Homo sapiens: one gene and its partners. The protein of the gene in region 7 interacts with the protein of the main gene of each other region in a biochemical or structural test. Each region holds a gene or a part of one and is shown on either strand. Other genes may lie near its edges. The genes, in order: GTF2B, TRIM24, ERCC3, OGT, TLE5, GTF2A1 and GTF2E1.

Evidence for each region.
Region 1: the proteins of GTF2E1 (region 7) and GTF2B form a complex in vitro, tested with the Homo sapiens proteins (2 studies listed by BioGRID).
Region 2: of the proteins of GTF2E1 (region 7) and TRIM24, one has a biochemical effect on the other in vitro, tested with the Homo sapiens proteins (one study listed by BioGRID).
Region 3: the proteins of GTF2E1 (region 7) and ERCC3 form a complex in vitro, tested with the Homo sapiens proteins (2 studies listed by BioGRID).
Region 4: the proteins of GTF2E1 (region 7) and OGT form a complex in vitro, tested with the Homo sapiens proteins (one large-scale study listed by BioGRID).
Region 5: the proteins of GTF2E1 (region 7) and TLE5 form a complex in vitro, tested with the Homo sapiens proteins (one study listed by BioGRID).
Region 6: the proteins of GTF2E1 (region 7) and GTF2A1 form a complex in vitro, tested with the Homo sapiens proteins (one study listed by BioGRID).

What each region holds. Positions count from the first base shown.
Region 1 is NC_000001.11:88,853,568-88,857,067, reverse strand, and holds part of GTF2B (transcription initiation factor IIB), read left to right. Parts: intron 1-3,500. UniProt on the Homo sapiens protein: General transcription factor that plays a role in transcription initiation by RNA polymerase II (Pol II). Involved in the pre-initiation complex (PIC) formation and Pol II recruitment at promoter DNA.
Region 2 is NC_000007.14:138,571,759-138,575,258, reverse strand, and holds part of TRIM24 (transcription intermediary factor 1-alpha), read right to left. Parts: intron 1,753-3,500; coding exon 1,617-1,752; intron 1-1,616. UniProt on the Homo sapiens protein: Transcriptional coactivator that interacts with numerous nuclear receptors and coactivators and modulates the transcription of target genes.
Region 3 is NC_000002.12:127,277,145-127,280,644, forward strand, and holds part of ERCC3 (general transcription and DNA repair factor IIH helicase/translocase subunit XPB), read right to left. Parts: intron 3,488-3,500; coding exon 3,303-3,487; intron 2,232-3,302; coding exon 2,029-2,231; intron 1-2,028. UniProt on the Homo sapiens protein: ATP-dependent 3'-5' DNA helicase/translocase. Binds dsDNA rather than ssDNA, unzipping it in a translocase rather than classical helicase activity. Component of the general transcription and DNA repair factor IIH (TFIIH) core complex.
Region 4 is NC_000023.11:71,539,604-71,543,103, forward strand, and holds part of OGT (UDP-N-acetylglucosamine--peptide N-acetylglucosaminyltransferase 110 kDa subunit), read left to right. Parts: intron 1-3,500. UniProt on the Homo sapiens protein: Catalyzes the transfer of a single N-acetylglucosamine from UDP-GlcNAc to a serine or threonine residue in cytoplasmic and nuclear proteins resulting in their modification with a beta-linked N-acetylglucosamine (O-GlcNAc).
Region 5 is NC_000019.10:3,055,996-3,059,495, forward strand, and holds part of TLE5 (TLE family member 5), read right to left. Parts: intron 1,748-3,500; coding exon 1,684-1,747; intron 362-1,683; coding exon 317-361; intron 1-316. UniProt on the Homo sapiens protein: Transcriptional corepressor. Acts as a dominant repressor towards other family members. Inhibits NF-kappa-B-regulated gene expression. May be required for the initiation and maintenance of the differentiated state.
Region 6 is NC_000014.9:81,175,960-81,179,459, forward strand, and holds part of GTF2A1 (transcription initiation factor IIA subunit 1), read right to left. Parts: 3' UTR 1-3,500. UniProt on the Homo sapiens protein: TFIIA is a component of the transcription machinery of RNA polymerase II and plays an important role in transcriptional activation. TFIIA in a complex with TBP mediates transcriptional activity.
Region 7 is NC_000003.12:120,777,244-120,780,743, reverse strand, and holds part of GTF2E1 (general transcription factor IIE subunit 1), read right to left. Parts: intron 1-3,500.

The DNA of each region.
Region 1 (3,500 bases), on a different chromosome or scaffold from region 7:
GCACTTTGGAAGGCCGAGGCGGGAGGATCACCTAAGGTCAGGAGTTCGAGACCAGCCTGATCAACATGGTGAAACCCCATCTCTACTAAAAATACAAAAATTAGCTGGGTGTGGTGGTGGGGCTTGTAATCCCAGCTATTCAGGAGGCTGAGGCAGGAGAATTGCTTGAACCTGGGAGGTGGAGGTTACAGCAAGCTGAGATTGTGCCATTGCACTCCAGCCTGGGCAACAGAGCAAGACTCCATCTCAAAAAAAAAAAAAAACCCACGTTTAAGACATCATTCCTCAACGTCAAAATGTTAAGAAAATATGTTTTGCTTTTTAAGCAGCTCATAAAAAAAATGTTCAGAGACATAACCCTGTGAACAAACCTAATTTTTTTCCCATTTGAATTATTTTAGTTTGTACATCTTTTATTCTTACAAGTTCTTTTTTCTCCCTGAATATATTCCTCCTGATCATTTTGAATACTCTTTTCCTTTCCAAACTTACCTTTTTAAATCTTAGGGGTCAGGGAGGCCATGCTTTGTTTCTCACTGCTTGGCATGGGATTCTACAGATAGACACACTGTAAAATACGTGTTGGCCATCAGCCTTTAACATTCTGTGAAGGTTGGTTTTTTCCCATTTTGCACAGTATTTTACAGTTTCTTAATACAAATTCTGAAATAAGTAGATGTAAGTAATTCAGCCTTCTAAAGCTATGTTTAAATTTAGTGTTGTAGGAAAACTTTCACCAGAAGTATTAAGTGAATTTCTTTTCCTTTTTTTTTTTTGTTTTTTTTTTTTTTTTTTGTTTTTGAAACAGTCTCCCTCTGTTGCGCAGGCTGGAGGTACAGTGGCACAATCTCAGCTTACTGCAACCTCCACCTCCCGGACAAGCTATTCTCATGCCTCAGCTTCCTGAGTAACTGGGACTACAGCCACGTGCCACCACGCCCAGCTAATATTTGTATTTTTAGTAGAGATGGGGTTTCACCATGTTGGGCAGGCTTGTCTCGAACTCCTGGCCTCATGTGATTCGCCTGCCTCCACCTCCCAGTGTGCTGGGATTATAGGCACAAGCCACCACACATGGCCCACTAACTCCCTTTTAAAGTTAGAAGTGACTACTCCTTTCTAAGTCTTTGAGGATTACAGAAGTTATTCATGAACAAATGCATGTAAAGAAATTCATAAACTAGGTGCGGTGACCAGCCTCCTGGCCAACATGGCAAAACCCTGTCTCTACTAAAAACACAAAAAAATTAGTCGGGTGTGGTGGCACATATCTGAATCCCATTTAGTAGGGAGGCTGAAGTAGGAGAATCACTTGAACCTAGGAGGCAGAGGTTGTAGTGAGCTGAGATCATGCCACTGCCCTCCAGCCTGGGTTGATGGAGTGAGGCTCTTTTTCAAAAAAAAGAAAAGTTGGTGGCAGGTCGCGGTGGCTCACCTGTGTAATCCCAGCACTTTGGGAGGCCAAGGTGAGTGGATTGCTTGAGGCCAGCAGTTCAAGACCAGCCTGGCCAACATGGCAAAACCCCATCTCTACTAAAAATACAAAAATCAGCCCAGCATGGTGGTGCACACCTGTAGTCCCAGCTACTCGGGAGGCTAAGAGACAAGAATCTCTTGAACTTGGGAGGCAGAGGTTGCGGTGAGCCTAGATTGCACCACTGTACTCCAGTCTGGGAGACAGGACTGTCTCAAAAAAAAAAAAAAAAAACAAAAACAGAAAGTGAATTACTGGCCTCAATAACTTTGTAATACTTTATTCACAACAGCCTTCAGCTTAGGCTATATGTTGAAAAAAGTAATAAATGATAGGAATAATTAGAGAAAGAAAGCCAATCATTAGTTATTTGAAGGAGCCATTATCCATTCCCTTTGGCCTTCACTCACGTTTTAAGGAAATTTTGAGTCTTTTAGTAAAATTGAGAAGTTGCAGCTAGGCAGTTTGTCCTTGAGGTACATTCCTAGTTGTAAAGTTTATTCTAATGAACAACATGAAAACATTAATCTTGTTGCTTTCTGCTTTTTGGCTTTATATGTAAAGTCTTCTTCAAATGTAAGGTCTTTCTCTTCCCTGCACAGCAGGCAGTTGACATTCAAATAGTTGGCATTTATTGGTATTTAGATGTAGAATAATGTAATGCAGTGTGAGATACGGAAATTTAAAATTAGCTAATTGTACAATGATGGCAGGCATTCACAGTGAAAATCACTAAAACCTCACTGATTTGAATCAACTGAAAAGGTAGTAAAATGAATTTGTATTAAAAGGTGTTTAGGCCAGGCGTGGTGGCTCATGACTGTAATCCCAGCATTTTGGGAGGCTGAGGCAGGTGGATCACCTTAGGTGAGGAGTTTGAGACCAGCCTGGGCAGCATGGTGAAACCCTGCCTCTGCTAAAAATACAAAAATTAGCTGGGCATGGTGGCAGGTGCCTCAGCTACTCAGGAGGCTGAGGCAGGAGAATTGCTTGAACCGGGGAGGCAGAGGTTGTAGTGAGCCGAGATCTTGCCATTGCACTCCAGCCTGGGTGACAGAGCAAGATTCCATCTCTAAATAAATAAATAAATGATGCTTAAAAATCCATTTTAATAAAGCATTCATAATACTTAACCAAACATTGTAGTGGCAGTCCTTTAGTATTTCTTTTAATGACTTTGAAAGGAAAAAAGGGACAGCGACTTTAAAGGGTAAAAGTGGATCTGTTAGGATTCTGTACAATGTTCGTTTGAGCTCAAAATATTTAAGTATGTGCTTGTATCAGTGAAAAACATCTCCGTATGCTATAATAAGTAGCTGTTTGATCTCTGATGTATTAAGTAGAAAAAAAGATTGTAGAACAATATTTATAGTATCACATTTTGTTTTTAATAAGGACCCCTTAACAGAAGTTAGCTAGGGGAGATTTTGCATGGGAGCTTTCAAACACAGAAATATAAAGTGAATTTCTTTACAAGAACATATTTGTGGAGTACTTTTGTGATCCTCAGAAAGATTTATAAAGAAAAAGGAGGAGTCAGTTGTAAATACAATACCCAGTATAAGATGATAACACTCCTAATACTAAGACCTGAACACTATTCATATATTTTATGTTAGTTAAACCCTTTAAAACATTGACAACCCTGTAAGGTAGTAAGTACTAGTAATCATTTTTATTGTTGCTTGTTACTGACTTTAGCTCCCACTTTTTTTTTGAGACAGTATTTGGTTAAGTATTATGAATGCTTTATTAAAATGGATTTTTAAACATCATTTATTAATTTATTTAGAGATGGAATCTTGCTCTCTCGCCAGGCTGGAGTGCAGTGGTGCGATCTCGGCTCACTGCAACCTCCTCCTCCTGGGTTCAAGCGATTCTCCTGCCTCAGCCTCCTGAGTAGCTGGGACTACAGGCGCATGCCACCACGCCTGGCTAATTTTTTGTATTTTTAGTAGAGATGGGGTTTCACCATGTTGGCCAGGATGGTCTCGATCTCCTGACCTGGTGATCCACCCGCCTCGGC
Region 2 (3,500 bases), on a different chromosome or scaffold from region 7:
TTAGAATAGTTGAAAACTATAAAAATATATAACATTTAAGTAGCCCATAACTTCTCCATCCATATATAAACACTGCTAAGGTTGATTGATATATCTCTTTCCAGTTTTAAACATACTTTTACATCTTTTATATGGTTCTGTATACTTGTTTTCACTAAACAGTAGTCCATGAGCATGCCATTAAAAACTCTACATAAGCATTGTCTGAATAGGTAAATAATCTGTTTACAAGTGAGCACATTCTAATTTATTTTTATCCTCATATTTGGGCACTGCTTCAAAATTTTAACTACTGCAAATAATGCCTTAATAGTAATATAAATATTAATAAATACGATCTGCCTATCCAGTTCCTAATTATTTCCTTATAATTGGCATATTAAAATGGAAATTACTAGGTTCAAGGGTACATACATTTTCCAAGCCCCTTGAAGCAAATATCCTACTAGGTAATACATATAAGGTACTTTGCCCACAGTACAATATTGGATAAATGTAAACTTTAGTAATATTGCTATGATGGTTTCCAGGAATGTTTTGCCAACTCATACCCCTTCCACCTATGTATGAGAGTACCTCTCATCACATTCTCAATGACTATTTTTATTATTTAAGTCTTAGCTAATTCAGTAACTTAGAAATTCTATCTTGTTTGATTTTTCTTATGACCACTAGTAAGAATGAATTTTTGTCTCATCTGCTATATTGGATAAATGTATTTCCTCTTTAGGGAATTATCTACTTATCATGTCCTTTGGCAATACCACATGTGTTCCTTATTTGTATAAACTTGTCATATGATAAACAGTTTCTCTGCTATATTTTGTCATAAGTTTGTTTAAAACGGGCATCCCCATTTAAATTGTGTTCATGTGACTGTTGAGTGACTTAAATTCTCTTTTCATATTTTGGTTTAAGGTACCTACGTCCTCAGAAGTAATATTAGCGTTTTTCTCTCAGAGGAAATGAGTAGGTATGTCAAGATTCACAAACACAATTAAACACCAAACAAATCACCAGAAGAGTGATTGCTACTTATTGTCACTAATACATTTTGACCCTAGGCAAATTACATCTTAAAGACCACATCACAGGCAACTTATCAACAAGAAAGAATATAACACCAATTTCCCCCTGGAAGTACTATAATGGTGAGAAGTTCTGTTGAAATTGAAAAGGTAAAGAAGGCCTAGTATGATGGCTCATGCCTGTAATCCCAAAGCTTTGGGAGGCTAAGGCAGAAAGGATTGCTTAAGGCCAGAAGTTCAAGACTGTCTCTACCAAAAAATATTAGCCACGTTTGGTAGAGCAGCATACTTACAGTCCCAGCTACTCAGGAGGCTGAGGTGGGAGATCGCTTGAGCTCAGGAGTGAGTCTGCAGTGAGCTATGATCGCACCACTGCACTCTAGCCTGGCAACAGAGCGAGACTGTGACTCAAAAGAAAGAAAGGATAAAGAAATTTAACCTTTGTTTTCTCTGAAAGCATACTAATTTTAAATAGTGAAAAACTCAGATTAAGCATTCAACAAAAAAGGAGAAGAGGGGTAATTTTTTATTCCAAGTAAAGTGAAAACTAGAAAAACTTTCACAAAAATCAAAAGAAGCCCACTTTACCTGCAAGGCCTGGAGATGGCACTGATGAATTTGGTGACTGGACCGTTCTGTTTGAGGGTGGTCTTGGCTGGCCATGATCTATATTAGTATCTTTCCTCACAATATTGTCCAGCATAATAGTACTTGAACAGTCAATCTTACAAGAAAAGAAATTATTTCAGGGCATTCTGATTTTGCAAGTTAAAAGCTACTTTTAAATTTATAAGAAAGCTTCAATAACTTAATAATTATTATCGAATAACAAAACATAGATACCACATTTGAGAAGTTCTAACAGATATTTTCCCCATAAACAACCTTGAATAAAGGTTTTCACTATCTTAGTGTTTCACCTTAGTAAAATATTGAGGACGCTATTTCAAAAACAGGAGTCAAAAGGAATATCATGTCATTCACACTCTTAAAAATTGAAAAAATTCTTATAAACGACAAAAGCTTGCCATATGAAAAACATAAACTTGGTGAGAAGACTATCACAATTTTACATTTCTTGCGAATCTCTTTAATGTCTCCCTAAACAGCATTCAATCTATTGTGGTATATGGTTTTGCTTGAAAAATATGAAGAAAATCTAGCCTCACACAGATAGATAGGACCTAGTGGATCCTCTGAAAGGGATACTTTAACAACTGATACTCTGGGTATGTGCTAAATAGACGAAGTCCATATATCTACAGCACTAACCTCACTGAATACATTACTGTTGTTTTGTAGGAGAAAAGGTGAACCCTAAAGATTCTTGCTTTAATATAACAGGAATACAAATAACACTTCTTTTCCTTATTCATTGCCAGGCAAAAATATTTACAAATCCCTAATGAGTAAGAGTTTAATACTTTAGACACAAAAATTCTTTCATGCCTACATATACCAAATTTCCCACCAATGTCTTTGGGCTTAAAATCCAGTTCAATTCTTTAACATAGTTCTACTCTTGTTCAACCAGGATTCTATAAGATAATTAAGTCCTACAGCCATAGGGCACAGTTTGTATATAATGAATCAATTTCTTGCTTATGCACCTAGAATGGTACTAGTTATGAAGCACCTTTGGGAGGAATGAGAAAACAGTCACTCATTTCAGCTTATTCTGTAATTCCTAAGAGGAATTTCAGGTAAGAAAGCCTGGTGGAAAAAGGTTCACCTGTATGAGGACTGCAGAGGAAAAAGCAGAAAGAATTTTACTTTCTGTGGGTTCGGGGGCAGGGAAATCGGGCCAGGTGGTTAATATACAGGGTCATTTTTGTTTTAATATTCTTTTGGCAATACTTGGCCAATATTTTTCAAAGAGTACAAAAAGTACTAGAATGACTAAATTCATGAGAACTTAATACAAGGAAAGTTGTTTACTTTGTGGGATAATCCTAAAAGCCAAATAAAACTATGGGGATTAGATGTAAGTTTTCCTATGAACCATCCATGCATGAGAAAATATATGTATTCTACTCATTTAAAGTATACAAAACTATTTTAAAAATGGAATGACTCTGGTAAGATTAACAATGCAACTATTAGGAAATATTAATTGATCTCAACTTGAAAAACAAATAATGAAAATAAAAAAGTTATTTTCACAATCTTATAGGTAATTTGATCCAAGTAAAGAGTACAAGATATTTCCTAAAAGCTTCTTAACATTAGGTGCGTATGTATATGTGCACGACAGTAGGTTATCTAACTTTAGATTAAAAAAAGGATCAAACACAGAATCAACTTATATATGGAGATCTGTCTACAGAATGCAGACTTTCTGCCTTTGGAATAGTCATACTGGCTGGGTGTAGTGGCTCATGCCTGTAATCCCAGCACTTTAGGAGGCCAAGGCAGGAGGATCCCTTCAGCCCAGGAGTTCAAGACCAGCCTGGGTAACATAGGGCGTCTCCC
Region 3 (3,500 bases), on a different chromosome or scaffold from region 7:
GAAACCCCATGGTAACAGCTGGTGGTGTCTCTAGTCCTAGACAGCAAGCAGGCCAGAACAGAGTAAGCGAATGGAGTGCTGGTGGGGATCCCACTGGGGAAACAGAAAAACAGAACTGAGAAATTACCTGACCCTACTGAGTTTATGGTTATGTGAAGACTTTGGAGGGGAATAATTATTCAATGCACAGAAAACCAAGCAAAAACAATGACAAGGCAATTATTAACTCCAAGGCAAAAAAACATTTACAAAAAAGAAAATGTAAGGCCGGGCATGGTGGCTCACACCTGTAATCCCAGCACTTTGGAAGGCCGAGGCAGGCAGATCACGAGGTCAAGAGATCGAGACCATCCTGGCCAATATGGTGAAACCCTATCTCTACCAAAAATACAAAAATTATCCAGGCTGTGGTGGCGGGTGCCTGTAGTCCCAGCTACTCAGGAGGCTGAGGCAGGAGAATCACTTGAACCCACAAGGCAGAGGTTGCAGTGAGCTGAGATAGCGCCACTGCACTCCAGCCTGGCAACAGAGCAAGACTCCGTCTCAAAAAAAAAAGGAAAATGTAATAGTACTCTACAGCTCTGCCTGAACATACTTACACAGTCAAAATAATGTAACTGAATATTAAAGTAACCCCCAACTTGTGCTATTCCCATATTGGGAGAATGGTAGGAGAGAAAACAGGAGTGGGGAGAGTGGTGTATGTAAGAAAGCTAAACCCTCAACTCCTACAGTAGGAAGTTAATAGGCAATTTCTATAACTGATCATCAAGAAATTACTACATAAGCTATTGCTTAGAAAGATGAAGGCTGGCCAGGTGTGGTGGCTCATGACTCTAATCCCAGCACTTTGGGAGGCCAAGGCAGGAGGAACTGCTTGAGCTCAGGAGTTTGAGACCAGCCTGGGCAACATAGCAAAACCCCATCTCTACAAAAAACAAAAATTAGCTGGGTGTGGTGGTGCGTGCCTGTAGACCCAGCTACTCGGGAGGCTGAGGTGGAAGGATTGATTGAGCCCAGGGGGTCAAGGCTGCCGTGAGCCGTGATTACACCACTGCACTACAGACTGGGTGACACAGTGACACCCTAACTCCAAAAAAAAAAAAAGAAAAAAGGAAGAAAGAAAGAAATATGAAGGTAAACAACAAAAAAGAGTCAAAAGCGGCTGTCTTCAAGGAATAGAATTGTGGGTGGGAAAATAGAAGCAGGGAATTGCTGTTTTTCACAATAATCTAAATGTTGACTTGGATTAAAAAGTCTTTCTAAATTAAATAAAGGTATAATTTTAGAAACTTAAGAAATTTAATCTTTCTATGAGTTTGTCTTCCCTTCTATAAAATGGGAACAACATTTTATATGGCTGAAGTGAGGATTAAGTAAAACCTATGTATAGTACCCATAGCACATAGCTTGACCTGTCTCCATAGAGGGCCTGGCCTTCTGCAACACTTACAGCACCTGAAGTCCTGTGTCACTGTAGGAGCAAGCGCAGACCTCTTCCTCCTTACTTGGCAGAGCTTTACAAAAGCCAGGTTTTAAGCACAAATATTTGGGTGGAGCCATGGGTTGATGAGGATACTGCGTGGGCATTTCTAAGCTCCTTCCAGATGCCAGTCCGTACTTGGGATGCCAGCCCAGCCCATCTTGCCTTCCCAGCCCCTAGGCCATCCAGTCTGGCCTCCTCTCCACCCACAGAGCTCACACAGCCCAAAGCTCCAAATGCCAACTCCCACCCACCTTTGGAGCCCAGATCTTCCATGGGGCCCCACCCAGCTCAGTCCAAGTCTCTGCTCCCTGTTCTTTGGGCTCAAGGTGACTAGCCCCCCTTTTCTCTATGCTCTAACCTCTGACTCCAACCACCTACTTCAGGTCTTCCCTGGTTTCTGAGACCAGGGCCACAGAACAAGATCTTTGGAGCCCAAGAAGTTCCTGAGAGAAAAACAAAAAAACAAAACAACAGCCACCTTCTGCACTCTCAATGGGGAAGAGAAACTGGCCTGGAGGAAGCTCCAAGTTTTCAATTCTTACTTGTTCAGTCGAATGGCATATTCCTTTAGGGCAAACACATTGTCAGCAAAGACAATAATCTTGTCATTCCTCCTTTCATGAAACTTGATCAGAAACTGGCAAGCTCTAAATTTGTTGGGGTTCATGGTGTACAGCAAGATTCGTTTCTTGGTTTTGATTGCCACATATTCCCGGTAAAATTCAGGAGACATAGGGCACCAGACCTGTAATACAGTAAGAACCAGGGGTCATTTTACAAGTTTAAACACCACACAATTTAAAACTTTTGAAGACCTTTCTCTAGCAGAATTAGCTTTAAAACAAAACCAGTCAGGTGCAGTGGCTCATGCCTGTAATGCCAGCAGTTTGGGAGGCTGAGGCAGGCAGATCACTTGAGGCCAGGAGTTCAAGACCAGCCTGGCCAACACAGTGAAACCCAGTCTCTACTAAAAATACAAAAATTAGCTGGGTGTGGTAGTGCATGTCTGTAATTCCAGCTACGCAGGAGGCTAAGGCAGGAGAATCACTTGCCCAGGAGGCGGAGGTTGCAGTGAGCCAAGATCACGCCACTGCACTCCAGCCTGGGTGACAGAGTGAGACCCTGTTTTAAAAAAAAAAAAATGCTATGTGAATTAGAAATCAGTACAACTGAAAATAAATGCATGCACAAAACTAAACCCAACCTAATACCTCCTATTGAACTGGACGTTTTCACATGTTAACCACTTAAAAGATTTTTAAATGCAATCACATCCAGGGAGTTATTTTCACACCAGCTGCAAGTGTGCGAAACCAGATTCTCAATTGGTAGTGTCAGCAATTCTTCCATTTAAGCCACACTTCCACACACGAGTCAGCACTGCTACTGAGTACCGCCACCTCTTCACACACTTCCCAGCAGGGCTGGGAGCATATCAGTTAGGCGCTTGGGGCTATCAGAGCAAAGCCCTTTGCTGCCAGGCTCCCAGGCAGCACTGTGGTATCAGGGGCCTTCATTCATCCCTGTGCCCTGAATGCTAATCCTCACCCACAGAAATCCATGACTGGTAAACCCCATGGCTAGGAAAAAGAATCATCACAAATTCAGGGGTATGTGAGATATGTGACAAGACAGAAGATATGCAGCAAGTGGGTCTAGTACCACCCAACCACAGGGTGACTGAGGATCCTGTATGAAGTGGTAGCAGGTGAGCCTAAGTCCTGACCTGTGTCTGCCCATGAGGAATCGATCTGATCACTCCCCTGCCCATAGGAGGAGGCCCTTTCCCAGACGCCCCCAGCCCAGGCCCAGCTACCTCAGCACACTGGACTTTGGCGATGTAGCCATTATTCTGCAGCTCCATCCAGTTGGCTTCGTAGAGCTTAGGCCCAATCAGAAAATTTAAATCCACAATTTTGTCATCTTCGCGGACGAGGGTCGCAGTCAAACCCAGCTTACAGTGGGCCTGCACGATGGTGAGCACCCTTCGGAACATCTTGGCTGAGGAAACAAT
Region 4 (3,500 bases), on a different chromosome or scaffold from region 7:
TATGTACATTTGAGTGACTTTTTGTAAGTTTTATTGCAATACTAATCTAGCTAGTTACCCACATAAAGTTTTAGGGAGCCTGGTATGTACTGCCACTGGGCCTTGGACCCCATTTTTCCCAGGGCTCAGGGCTCACCTCTGTACCCAGTTGTCACAGTAAGTTCTTTACCTTTATTAATCAGGTTGATTCTACTCTTATTGATAGTGTACCCTCTTACACAGCTGTGGTTCTTGCCATCTTTAACTCTAATGCCCTTGGCTCAGGTTTCCAGTTGCCTATGTGTGTAGCAGAGCAGTCATTGCTACTGATAGTGTACCCAAGCAGTAGGACTATGCTGAGAAGGAAAACTAAAGTGAGAGATGGAACCTTGCTATTTAATATCTAACCTGCTGTTAGCAGGAAGCTTATTGTTGTACCCTACCAAGGAAGTGAGATAGTACTAAAATAAATCATGGGATTACCTCTTGAATGCATTGAATGGCCATGTGTTGTCATCTGGTTCTATGTTTCTTCTAGTGGAAGGTGCTGCTTTACTTATTTATTACTGTTTTTACCAATAAGAATGAAAATGGGATTGTGCAAGTTCCCTTGATTTCAACTAAACATGCCATAGTGATCATATTTTAATTTATTTCAGGATATCTAAAGTCTTAACTAGATTTAAACTTACTGTCAAATGCCCGTTGTCAGTTCAGTACTGGTAGAACCTTGCGTCTGTTCCTTATGTTCTTGTTGACAGTGCTTAAATGCATCATTAGTACATTGTGTACCTGAATCATAGATGTAGTTGGCATTCTATGAAAAATGGTTAAAGAAACTCAGGTTATTTTGGTTTTGCAGCAGTGAAAGAGTAGAATGTTAAGGTGGTATCTTTGGTAACCTTGGTAACTGTTTTCAACAGTGTTTATCTTTTTAAGTTAATAGATATGTCAATTTAGAAGTTGTTCTCTGTGACTTGATTATAGAAATTATCTTTGAGACAGCTATCTCATTTTTTTCATTCTGAATTATCTTCTATAATTATAATGTTGGGTGTTTTCATAATTTTGGTAAGATTTTAGTCTGTCATTTTTTTTTTTTTTTTGGAGACGGAGTTTTGCCCTTGTCACCCAGGCTGGAGTGCAGTGGCGCGATCTCGGCTCACTGCAACCTCTGCCTCCTGGGTTCAAACGATTCTTCTGCCTCAGCCTCCGAAGTAGCTGGGATCACAGGTGCCCACCACCATGCCTGGCTAATTTTTTGTATTTTTACAAAAACAGGCTTTCACCATGTTGGCCAGGCTTGTCTTGAACTCCTGGCCTCAACAGATCCGCCTGCTTCAGCCTCCCAAAGTGCTGGGATTACAGGCGTGAACCACTGTGCCTGGCAGTCTGTTGTATTTGAAGGTGTTATTGCAGATAGCACCTTGCAGTGACAGCACATGTTCTTTGACATGGTGACTCACTAGAGTTGCCTATACCTGGCAATTCCTTTTGCAAATTATGTATAAAATTGTCCTTTCTGTAACGGCTATAACCCTGAGTTGTTTTAAACAGGTCTGTTTCTGAATCTATAGGTTGTTGAATTGTTGCTTGTGCTTTGATTGTGGATGCACAGAATGGAGAGCTGCTGGCATCCTGGCCATCATGTGTGTTCCTGTCATGTTATTTGTTACTTGTTACTGCTGAGCCTCTCTTATACAGCTGCACTGTAGAAAACCATATATTTCGATTCTTCTCTGTTCTGCTTTCTGTTGTATATTTCGATTCTTCTCTGTTCTGCTTTTTGTTAAGGTTGCTGTGCAAATGTCACATTTAAATATGTGAGTGCTTATTGTGCATACAATGCTTTGTTAGGAAATGGGGAGATGTGTTGTGGGGGAAGTTGCGGGTTATAATATAAGACAGGACCTGACCCGTAAAGGAAAAAATGGTGTAAGTTCCTTGGATGATAATTGTTGGAGAGTATTAATCAGAAGATTTCCTCGAGTGGGTGCTTATGACCTAAGCATTCTGTAGGAAGGTAAATAGCAAGTAGACTTCCTTGGCTGAAGTGGTGAGTCAAGTAGTAACAAGAAGTGAATGTAGTAGAGGAGAGTCAATTGGAAGATTTATAAAGAATAGAGAGGCTGAGGAGTTTGAATTTAATTTGAGAGGCAATTGAGAATTACTGTAGGTTTTTATCGACCTGATTTTACTTCATATGTATGTACGTGTCTAGATGTTGTGGCTGGTGGGGGTGGGAGGCTCTAGGAGGAAAGGCAGGAAACTGATGCAATCTTAGGAGAAATAGTTCTACAGGAAAATCTTGCTCATTTCTATCTCCTTTTATTCTCACGATTTTCCCTTGTATACAGTGCCCTCCTCCTTTGTCTATTAAAACCCTACTCATCCTTCAAGGCCCAGCTTAAACTTCTCTTATGAGCTCATCATCTAGTTCTCTTAAAATTCTTTACTACTGAGTGGGCATTTAGTGTGTGCCTTGTCTTTTCACATAGATTGTAAGCCCCTTGATGATAAGGATTCTATATCTTTTCCCTATAGTTCCAGGCATGTTATTGAATTGAGTAACAGTTTGCCTGAAATGTATTAACCTGGGATGGATAAAATGGGCTAGTTTTGAGAAATATAATTGTCAAAAACATTTTGATTTGACAGATGAAGCAGAAGTGATGTCTTGGGTTTTGAACTTTTGGGAGAATGGTGGTGCCCGTGCGTTTTCTAGAAATTAGCTGTTCATGCACATAGGTTTGGATCCCCAAACAGGAGAATTGGATTTCACCGTTACATTTAATATGATGTTTTAGCTTTTCCTAAAACTGCCTTATTGATTATCTTATAGTAATCTTGAAGATAATGTATTTTTAACTATGAGCATTGTGTTAACTTGATATAGTATACTGTAATGGATCTAGATGATAACAAAATATAGATATGCTGTCAGGACTTAAGTGGCATCCATCCAAGAGTTCATAGAAACTAGAGGGTAATAAAATTACGCAACAGCTGGCTACTATGTATGGCCATTACAGTCATTGTTGGAGAATTATTGCAAGACTTCTGATTATTATGACTTAGAAAAGGCATAGGAATTGGTAAAAGTCCAAACATGTATAACCACAATTATCAAGTAGTAGAAGGAGCTTGTATGCATGGATTGGATTATGCAGTCATGGTCTGCCAAAACAGGGGTAACCCTTTCAGTTTAGAAAAAAACATAACCATACAAAGTAGATAGCAAGATTATATAATTCATTACTTCTGAGAGTATAGTGTTAAAAAGTGCTCAGGCTAATTAGAGGAGAAGTCAAATAAGATTAATGGTACCTTTGATGTTTTGAGGATTAGTATTAGCCTTTTGTGCTTGAAGTGATGGGAGACAACCTTACTCTCTAGAACATCAGTCATTGCTTGAAGGACAGTATTGAGTCAGGGAGATGATGGAACTGACCCAGTATGGCTGACCGTAAGATTGTTGTGTGGCAGCCTGTACTTTGTTGGCAGACTTTTTGGTTCACCTG
Region 5 (3,500 bases), on a different chromosome or scaffold from region 7:
CCACTCAGGCCCCTGGCAGGTAGTAAGCGCTTGTGCGAATGTAGGGAGGGCTGGGGGCCGTAGGCTGTGGGGAAGGTCTCTGCCCCTCCCCACCACCGGGAGAAACACTCCCAGGGAGGCCTGAAAAAGAGGCGGGGCGGGGGGGAGGAGAGCGGGAGCTTGGGGAGGGCTTAGGAGGTAACAGGATAACCGGGCTGGCTTGGTGCCCAGCCGAGGGCCGGCCGCTACCTGCCTGGGGGTGCCCAAGGCGGGGCTGGAGGTGGGGGGAGGAGGGGGAAGGAGGAGGAGGAGGAGGAGGAGGAGGAGATGGGCGTACCTGTTTGTGCATCTCGATGTTCAAGCCGTAGGACATCTCGTAGTACTGTATGGGGGAGAGAGAGGGGGAGCGGGAGATGGGGGTGGGGAAGGATGGGGGGACACGGAGACAAAGAGATAGGGGAGTGGCAGAGACAGACAAAGGGGGGAGACAGCAAGAGACAGCTGAGGGCAGGAAAGAAAGGAGAGGCAGGTGGGAGGGAAAGAGGAGGGAGAGACGCCCACACCCAGCATCCCAGCCCGCCCTGGAGAGGGGCAGGGGGCCGCTGGGGCTGCGGATGGAGACTGGGGGCACTTTAGGTCCCTAGCCCTGGCCTGGCTCCTCCCCCACTCCATGTGCACCGCGAGAACACGCATTCCAGGGCTCCTAATCTTGTATCTTTCTATGTCTTGTCTGCGGGTGGGCCCAGACGCCAGGGAAGTTTGCCTGCCTAGGTATAAACAGTGAGGGGTAAACAAAGCCTGCTGGCTCTGGGGCCAGCAGCTACCCCCACCCCAAGCCCCAGATCTCACCCTGCCCCTCCCCTGCTCTAAACCCTCCCATGGCTCCCTGTCACCCCTGGGGGAAAACCAAGTTCATTCCCAGGCCTTCACGTAGTTTCTCTGTCTCTGTCTGGTGAACTCCTACTCATCCTGCAAGACCCCAGCTGTGTGCCCCATTTCTCCATATAGTCTTCCTCAGGCAGGTCCTAGGTCCCTCTCTCTGACCCCAGCCCTATTCTTCTGGCTGGGAGGGTCAGGGTCTGGCTCTGCCTCCCCCACAGTCTGGGAGATTTGGGTACTGGGCTGAGACCCCAGCATCGCTGCTCGAGGGCCAGGCCAAGGGTGGGTAAGGGAGGGGATTTTTGATGCAGAAATCGTCACCTGGCAGTTACAAAACCGAGCAAGTGGTTCTGGCAGCAGCAATGCAGTGTCACACATCAGCCCCCCGAAATGGGTAGGGCTCAGACCCCCTCCCACAGGCTTCTTCTTTGAGCTCGGGCCCAAAGGGGTTAAGCGTGTGGACGCTGGGACCTTGGCGGTGGGGAGGGACTCGGCTGCTCCCCCACGTCAGTTCCTGGCTGTTGGCTTTCACAGCCGGTGAGCCTCCCTCTCCTCCCTCCTCCGCTGCCAAGGACAGCCGGGGGACCTGGCAGGGCCGGTCTGCAACCCGGCGGTTTGGCACCTCGGCCACTGCCTCGGCCATCTGCCAGGCTAGCGAGGCAGGCTCAGCCCAGCAGGGGCCGGCTGAATGGAGAACAGGCCCCGATCCTCGCGCTTCCCAGGGGAGGTGGCCGGGGTTGAGGGAGCAGCTGCCCGTGGTGGAGGGGATGTGGAGGGCCCTGTCGCCCGCCCCCAACACTGGACCTGGGGGCGGAGTGACGTTACCATCACATAGTGACGCTGCATCTCTGACTTCTCACTGGCCAACTTGTCACATTCGAGCTTGAGGCTGAGGAGGCACAGGGGGGAGATGGGGTGGTTAGTGGCGGCTGGGCGGGAGCCCCCCACCCTCCGTTATCCAGGGGAGGAAACTGAGGCTCCAAGTCCCCTGTAAGGGCAAGATCAGCCAATTCTCAGAGGGTCAAGCAATAATTTTTTTTTTAAATTGAGACGGGGGTCTCCCTATGTTGCCCAGGCTGGTCTCAAAAACTCCTGGGCTCAAGCAATCCTCCTTCCTCGGCCTCCCAAAGTGCTTGGGGTTACAGATATGAGCCACCCACCGTGCCTGGTCAATGAAGCCGTAAACTTTCATAGGGGCTGAGGACATTGAATTGAGGGGCAGGGAAGTTGGTAAGAGTTGAGCTCTCTGTGATGCTGCGGGGAGGGGAGAGCATCAGGGCCCCTGACTGTAAGAAGGGGGTGATGAAACCACCCTTGCAGATCTGGTTGGGGGGAAATAAGCAACATTATAGTAACATTATAGGAACAACAGAAGTTAGAGGGGGCACGGTAACGCTAGCTCTGAGAGTCTCACGAGCCTTCACCTCTCACGGTCCCGACGAGGCCCGCAACGTCATTGTCACGCTCCTTTTATAGATGACACAGTGGACACCCAGAGAGGGTGAGGAACTGGCTCAAGGTCACACAGCCAAGCAGCAGCCCAAGCTCTCAACCACAGGGGAAAATTTTCCAGACCCAAATAGAACGTACAAAGAGGCTGAGAGGGTCTGGGGCTGCAAGGCGGCTCCCGGCTGGACTTCCCAAGGGGACCCTAGCTTCATGGGGGGCCTGGACTTCCCAGGCAGACCCCTCAGCTCCCTCTTAGTCCTTCCTAACAGCCTTTTTTCTTTAGCTGGGACAAAACACACCATTTCTCCCACTCCACCTGGCCAGTCCGGGTGGCTGACACCAGAGCTTCCTACAGGCCCTCCCGGGAAGGATGAGCTGTGGGGCGTTTCTCAAAGCCCCCATGAGGGCGTCATGGCCGGAGGGAAGAGAGCAGGCAGGAGGGCCTCCCAGTCCAGGAAAAGAACTGGTGATGGTGGTGGGGGAGGTGTCCTTTAACCTACTTAAATCCAACCCAGCACAGGGGCCCTGCGGACCTGGCTGTGGCTTACCTGCTTCTGCCATCCCCACCCCCTCTCGGACTGGGTTCAAAGCTCAGCCCTTCGTCTTCCCTGCTGTGTGACTCTAGGCAAACTCCACTACCTCTCTGGGCTTCATTTCCTCCTCTGTGAGGTACCACTAACAACCTCGCAGGGTGGGGTGGAGAAGAGTCAATGAATTCAGACAAGAAAAGTTCTAGAACAGTACCTGGCATACAGTAAGCATCCCATAAATGCACATGGATCTTAGGATACCCCAGGAACCTGGCATTTTGCTCCACCGGAGAAGAGTGTGCCGGGTTAGGGATGCTTTGGCCGCCACCAATTTTTCTCTAGTTTTCTTTTAAAATGTGCATTTGTTGCTACCATTAAAAACAAAAACAAAAACAAAAAAAAACCGGGGCTGGGTGCAGTGGCTCACGCCTGTAATCCCAGCATTTTGGGAGGCCAAGGCGGGTGGATCACTTGAGGTCAGGAGTTTGAGACCAGCCTGGCCAACATAACGAAAGCCCGTCTCTACCGAAAATACAAAAATTAGCCGGGTGTGGTGGTGCACGCCTGTAATCCCAGCTACTTGGGAGGCTGAAACAGAAGAATCGCTTGAATCCCAAAGGTGGAGGTTGCAGTGAGCCGAGATCGCGCCACTGCACTCCAGCC
Region 6 (3,500 bases), on a different chromosome or scaffold from region 7:
ACAGTTTACTAATTCAAATTGACATCTCAATCTACTTATCTTTAAGGTACAGAATTTAGCATCTTTTTGTTGTTGTTAAATGGAATTCTCATTAACAATGTAAAGCATTTTCCTTTCTAAATTGTATTTTATTCAATTATCTATAACAATGCCATATACTAGTAAGCAAAGCAAGCAACATTTTTTTTTAAATAACATCTTTAATTAAAGTTTTTGCAAAGTAGAATATTAAACTTAAAATAGGTCTTAGTACATCAAAATACTAAGTTCTCTAATTGTATTCCAAGATGGTCTTTAAAACATAATATCCCATATATCACAGAAGAGCAACCTTGATCTGCAATGAATTTTACAAACATAATAAATATATTTACGCCATTACACATAACAGTATGTACAACAGCAGTTGACAATAGTAGCTCAGAACAGCAAAAAGGATTAGCCCCGCCCCCCAAGTCATAGTCCTGATGTAGACTGGACTGATTAAGGAACCTTGACTGAAAGAGTAGTTACTAACTCAATGTGTAGTAACTTCCCTTAAAAGAGAAAAGTTTTTTTGTTCCTCAAAATAAACAAAAATGTTAGTTTGGTGTGTTCTTCATTAAACCATAGACAATGACAAAAGACAAGAGTAAGGCAGGCTTAAAAAGGGAACAATATAAACTTCGTAATAATTTTCATAGCATAATAGAGGACTAAAATGCAAAGCTATTTAACAAACTCATGAGGAAACAAGTAAAGCAACTATTTTTTAACTAAAGAATTCAAAATCTGCTATAGCTGATTCTGACAGGTAGGTGAGAGAAAGACATGAAATAAAATGAAAATGTACAAAGATGGATCAACAAACTATTACATTGCACAAAAGCTTAAAAAAAAGAAAGTTCAAGATGAAATAATCGGAAAAACAGGAATTTTCTCAAGTAGAAGAAAATGCTAAGTCATAAAGAGAACTCCCAAGAGGAAATTATGTCTGTTTTCCTATACAAGGGGTATTTACCCTCTGATAAGAATGGTGACATTATTGCTATGAGAATCAAAAATAGTATACTCTTAGAGGGAGACAACTCTTTTCATTCCTCCATAAAAGCCAGGAAAAAAAAAATCTGTGACTTTCATTATAGCAAAAGAAAATATTCATATAAAAGCTATATGTTATTTCCTAAAACCAGAATCTATTATGCTCATTAAGCACACATTTTAATTACTACACACTGCTCAAGTCTTGATGTAATCTTAGAACAAGAAAGTGGCTTTGCTTTTAAAAGAGGCAACAGTGTAAATGTGACATTATGATGGCATTTTAATTAACAGAAAGAAATGTGAACATTTAAAAAATAGAAAAGCCCAACATAAAGATCCCCCTCACATAACAGACATTTTACTCTAGAAATTAATTGCACATTAAAGAGTTGTTTTAGCCATATGTGGCACTCCACAGAAATTAAACATGCTCTCAGGCATTCAAATGGTCTGATTACCCAAATGGCCACCAAGCAAGAGTTTGTATACTGAAAGGCACACATTTCCATGTTTTATCTTGTAATTTTGTGTAAATTTTCCTTAGCACTGTTGATTAATGTTAATTTAAGTAAAAGGTGCCATCGCCATCTGTGCAAATCTAAACAAATCCTCTCCAGAAACCATTACTTATTTTCATAATACCAAGTCCGAACTATTTTCTGCCTTTAGATAAACATGCTACTTTCATTTTCAAATTCTGAAAGTGGAAATCCCTTGCCTTTTCAAAGGAATGACATTTTAATGGAACCTAATACGAAATGATTTGTTAAATACAATGTTAAAAGCATGATTAAGAATTCAAGTACAATAAAAGATAAGCAAGTGACATTCTTACAGCAAAAGCTACTATAATAAAACTAAAACATGCTATTTGATTAAAAAGGACACGATGCAAATAATATATAAGAGCACAATTTGGTATGCAATGTAGCTTGGACCAGCTTTCAGAATTTTCACAGGTAAAAGAAAAGCATTTGCCAAGTATACCATAATTCATATGCAATACGCAGGTGCAAATACAAATGGTTATTTCCTGCTTCAAAAATAACAAAATAACCACTCTGAAAGCAGTGGTTGTTAATATTTGAAAAATAAAGTTATAAAAACAGGCCAGTATACAACACTACTATGAATATGAATGTTTGTCTACATAGAGGGCCCAAGACAAGCTGAATATCATACAGTAATCCAAGTTTCAGTAGCATAAAAACTACTAGATAGCCAAAGGGTTTCACTTAAGCAACACTGCAGCACTGCTGAATTTTTATAGGTAGTTCAGGTCACTGACTTCCTTACTGAGTAAATACAAACCTACTAGCAACTATATTGAAGAACAGTTGAACAACAGCACTTCTGTGATGTTACTCCCTCCCATTTCCTCTTCTCTCAGTCTTAATAATATATATTTTAAAACCTCTGTGTGCTTTGAGAGTCACAGAATAAACAAACTTCCCCTCAAAAAACTAAATTAATATAGTCAAAATAAAAGCTGTATTACCAGTTATGGCATCTAAATAAAATCTAACTACTAGCATGCTAGACACCACCATTAACACCAAAGTTTAGAACATAAGTTAAAGAGATCAAGGTGGTAAGCTGGGTGGGAAGTAGAAAAAAAAAATTTTTGCCTTTTTTTAAAGTTAAAAGATTTGTGTTAAAAAAGAAACACTATATAATAGCTCACAGTTTTCTTCTCTGTAATGTACTTTAAAAAGTGTTCATGTGTTACTTCTGAAAACACAAAGGCAAAAGGAAGACAAAAACTGAAGATTAAAAAAATATATCAATATACAAGTAACCTAAACACATGTAAATTTTGTCAAGATAAACCATGGAAAGTTGAATTCGTTGTAAGAACACAATGGTGAAGACAAGCATTCCTGCAGTTCTCCCAGGCAGTGAATTCACACTGAACACAGCAGTGCCATATTGTTCTTCAGAGCCCCTTACAGAATACAGACCTATGCATTCTTAATATACATATTACATTTCTATTATTTTTAATATACAAGTCAAATTTCTATGCTTTCTTCCCAATGTGCAAACTGGAGCCAACGTCTTTATTTTCAATGGCCTGGAAGGGCCACCAAATGAAAGAGAGGTAACTTAGTGGCCCACCCACCTCTTCCCCCCAAATTTTCCCCTCAAATTACAAAGTTGATTTTAAAAACTTGTTGAATTAGAATAGATTTTTAAAATTCTTTACTAGTAAACACAAGAAACTTTTATAATTACTAAACTGTTTAATAAAAATCCAGGTCCTCACCACCTGCCCTATGCTAATCAATGCACAGACTGTTAACTGAATGTTTAGCTTAAAAACTAAACACATTTATAAGCACACACTTCAGCCCAACAGGAAAAGTCTACATATATTCATGTGTATACAATTTCAGCTAGATGGTATGCTTGCAAAATAAAACTATATTCCTGAGGAGCTAGTTTGGGGTTTCTTTTTAAGGTGTGGCACTAAAAGA
Region 7 (3,500 bases):
CTGTAAAATGAGGTGATAAAAGCATCTACTTTCTAAGGTTCTGAATAAAAACATATAAGATAATGTCTATGAAGAATCGACTAGAGTAGCTGGCATAACAGAAAATCAAAACATGGCTCTTTATCTCACTCAAGGTAAAAGCCAAAAGCTTTGCAATGGCCTATAGGGTCCCACATCATCTGGAATCCTTCCTGATCATCTACCTCTTACTTCTTTCCCCTGCTCATTCTTGTCTAGCCACAGTAGCCTCCATGGTATTCCTTGTACATATCAGACACACTCCTACCTCAGGGCCTTTGCATTACCTGTTCCCTCTGCCTGGAATATTTTTCCTTTAGGTACTCACACAGCTAACTCCCTTCCATCTTTCATGTCTTTATTCAAATGTTACCTTTTAAATGTATCCTATCCCTACATTCCCAATGCTCTATTTTTCCCCCATAGCACTTATTTCCTAACATAATGAATAACTTACATCTATTGTCTTTGTCACCCCCTTTCCAAGGATGTAGGTTCTACCACAACAGATATTTATCTTGTTTATTCATGGATATATCCCATTTACCTAAATAGTACCTGCCACTCTGTTAGGCACTGAATAAACATCTGACAAATGAGTGAATAAATGTGAGTTTTATTTTCATGAAGCAAACTAAGCATACTTAAAACTCTTTATAAAAAAAGAATCTAATTTTAGGAATGAAGCTTCTCTCACCACACACCTCCTATCATTTTGTGTACATATCTTACCTGATATACTGCAGATGAAATATTTAAGAAAACCATCTGCATTCTGCATTCTGATACTACTACCAAACATACTGCCATTTAAAATACATAAAAAGATTAAAAGTATTGTTTGGAACCTGACTCCCTGATTCAAATCCTAACACTATTTAGCTGTATGATTCTGGCCAAGTTATTTCATCTCTCCGCTTCAATTTTCTCAAGTACAGAAAGGGGGAAAATAGTATTTACTTCACTAGATTACTGTGGGGATTAAGTGAATGTCTGTGAAGTGTCTAGAATGGGCCTGGCACTTAGAATAGTGTTATCTATCATCATCGTCATCAAGAGAAGACTCAGAAATGGTCAATTCTGACTATGGATAAAGTGAAAGCATCTTCTCATTAACACATTAAAATGAATTAGCTAAATCCCTGGACATTTTAGAAGGCACAGAACTCCTAAAATGAGATACTGAGCAGATAAGAGAGAGAAAGGGAAACAGAAGCAGACAAGTTAAAAGTTTAGGTCAGAGAAAAGAGGCTTTTGATAACATGACTGTCAAAATGAGAGTTAAAATCAAACTTAACTACTTCAAAATATTGTCAAAGGCTGAACCTCCTCCTTAGAGCTTACTGCCAATGCAGCACTACAACAGAAAGAAAAGAAGGTAAGGAATGCATGCAAGCCTTTAAGACAATAATTGCTTCTAAAAGAATGTTCCAAATAGTTTAATAATATCAACACAGTATTTTGATTAATGTTTAAGTATTAAATTAGGGAAAAAGAAAATTAGTTTTGTAAACTAAATTAAGTCACACGTAACAGATTTCTGACAAGGGTCTTGAGAGGTTTGGAGAAAAAAGAATTATTCTGTTACAGATGAAGACAGAAAACAAAAAACAAGGATAAATGAGCAAATTTCTGGATGGTAAAGTAGAAACAGTGGTTCTAGGAACAGCCTTTTTCAACAGAGTTATAAATTACAAAGAAGATGTATACTGGGAAACTATATTCACGGAATTGATGCTAAGCAATTGTGGGTACTGAAAGGCCAAGTTGCAGCAAAAAAATATAGGAAGAGCTGAAGGTTGTATACGTGGGCAGAAAAGTAGCAGATCTATTTCTATTTCAGCAAGTGCAAGAAAATCAGCCTGCAGAAAAATAATCTAAAATATACTGAAAGATATGATCCAAGCTATTGGATTCAAGGCACAGAAGAACCTAAAAAGTACCTCTACGTGTTTCTAGAAGTTTTTGGTCTTAACATGCTTCCAGAACCAAAGCAACAAACAAAATCTCAAGTAAAAACCAGAAAGATACTGGAAATAAAACTCAAATCAATGGTGAATCCATGCATGAACAACATGTATCATTCTGGTCACTATGTCTCAAGTAAAGTATATTACAATTAGAGATGGTCCAGAAAAAGACAAAAATAAACAAAAACTGTAGGAGGTGGCAGCAGTGGAAAAGAGAACTGTTTAAGGAAAACAGAATCAAAAGGAATTAGAACTTTCTTCAGTATAGTAATGAGAACATGATTGAAGTCGATACAATTGTGAAAGATATCAACATGACTTGAAGTTTGAGGAAAATCAAGTGTTAAGACCCACTTCATACATTCACTGGATAGAGTCTGCTCTACTATCAAGAAACTTAGGATAAATTCAGACATGACAACATACTATCCTATTTTATGCAGAAATAAATATTTACAAAACTTAAGTAGACCAGATAACTTATTTAAGGCCCATATGATTCATATTCTATCATTTTAGGAACTGTAAACTAGAATGTTAAACTTATGAGCTTAATATATAATGTTGGTTAATAATAATTTTATTTTATTCAGTTTTCTTCCTAAGTTCAAAGAAAAGAAGGCTGCTTTAAGAACAGGCAAGAAGCCAAGTTGGGGAAAACAAATTTATTAAGTAGTAGTATAGCCTAACTACTGTATAATCTAAAACAACTTCAATCTAAATAACACAACAGGCTGGGCACAGTGGCTCATGCCTGTAATCCCAGCACTTTGGGAGGCCGAGGCAGGCAGATCACTTGAGGTCAGGAGTTTGAGACCAGCCTGGACAACATGGCAAAACCCCGTCTCTACTAAAAATACAAAAATTAGCTGGCCATGGTGGCTTGCGCCCAATTCCAGCTACTCAGGAGGCTGAGGCAAGAGAATCACTTGAACACGGAAAGCAGAGGTTTCAGTGAGCCAAGATCGCACCACTGTACTCCAACCTAGGCAACAGAGCGAGACTCCGTCAAAAAAACTAACATGGCAGGCTAATCAGTGAGGAAGAAGGAGGGTAAAGTATGGTTGCCTTGGAAAACCTTTTCTTATTAAAATTAATATATCAAAGAGAATCACAGTAGAGGTATTAGCTGCTTTACCATCACTACCAAACTCCACGTTACCTTCACAATTTCTAGTATATACATATACTAAATGCTAATTATGAAGGGAAAAGAGGCTAGGAGAAACGCCAAAAAACAAGTGGTTTTCAGCTACTGATTATTCTTTGGCACTAACATATCACCAAACTCACGTGATATGTTAGTAATGATATATTAACTTGGGAGTAGCGGCACATTGATTGTTACACTGATAAAATTCAGCAAGAAATAGAGACACCCTTCCTCTCTACTTTCCAGCTTGAGTCATCGTCATCCATTTTTGCCTCCCATTTTCTACATACTCCTAAACCATCATCACTCAAAGTCTTGAATGCAGTAACTTAGACTAAAACTTAGAAAGTAAAATCTTG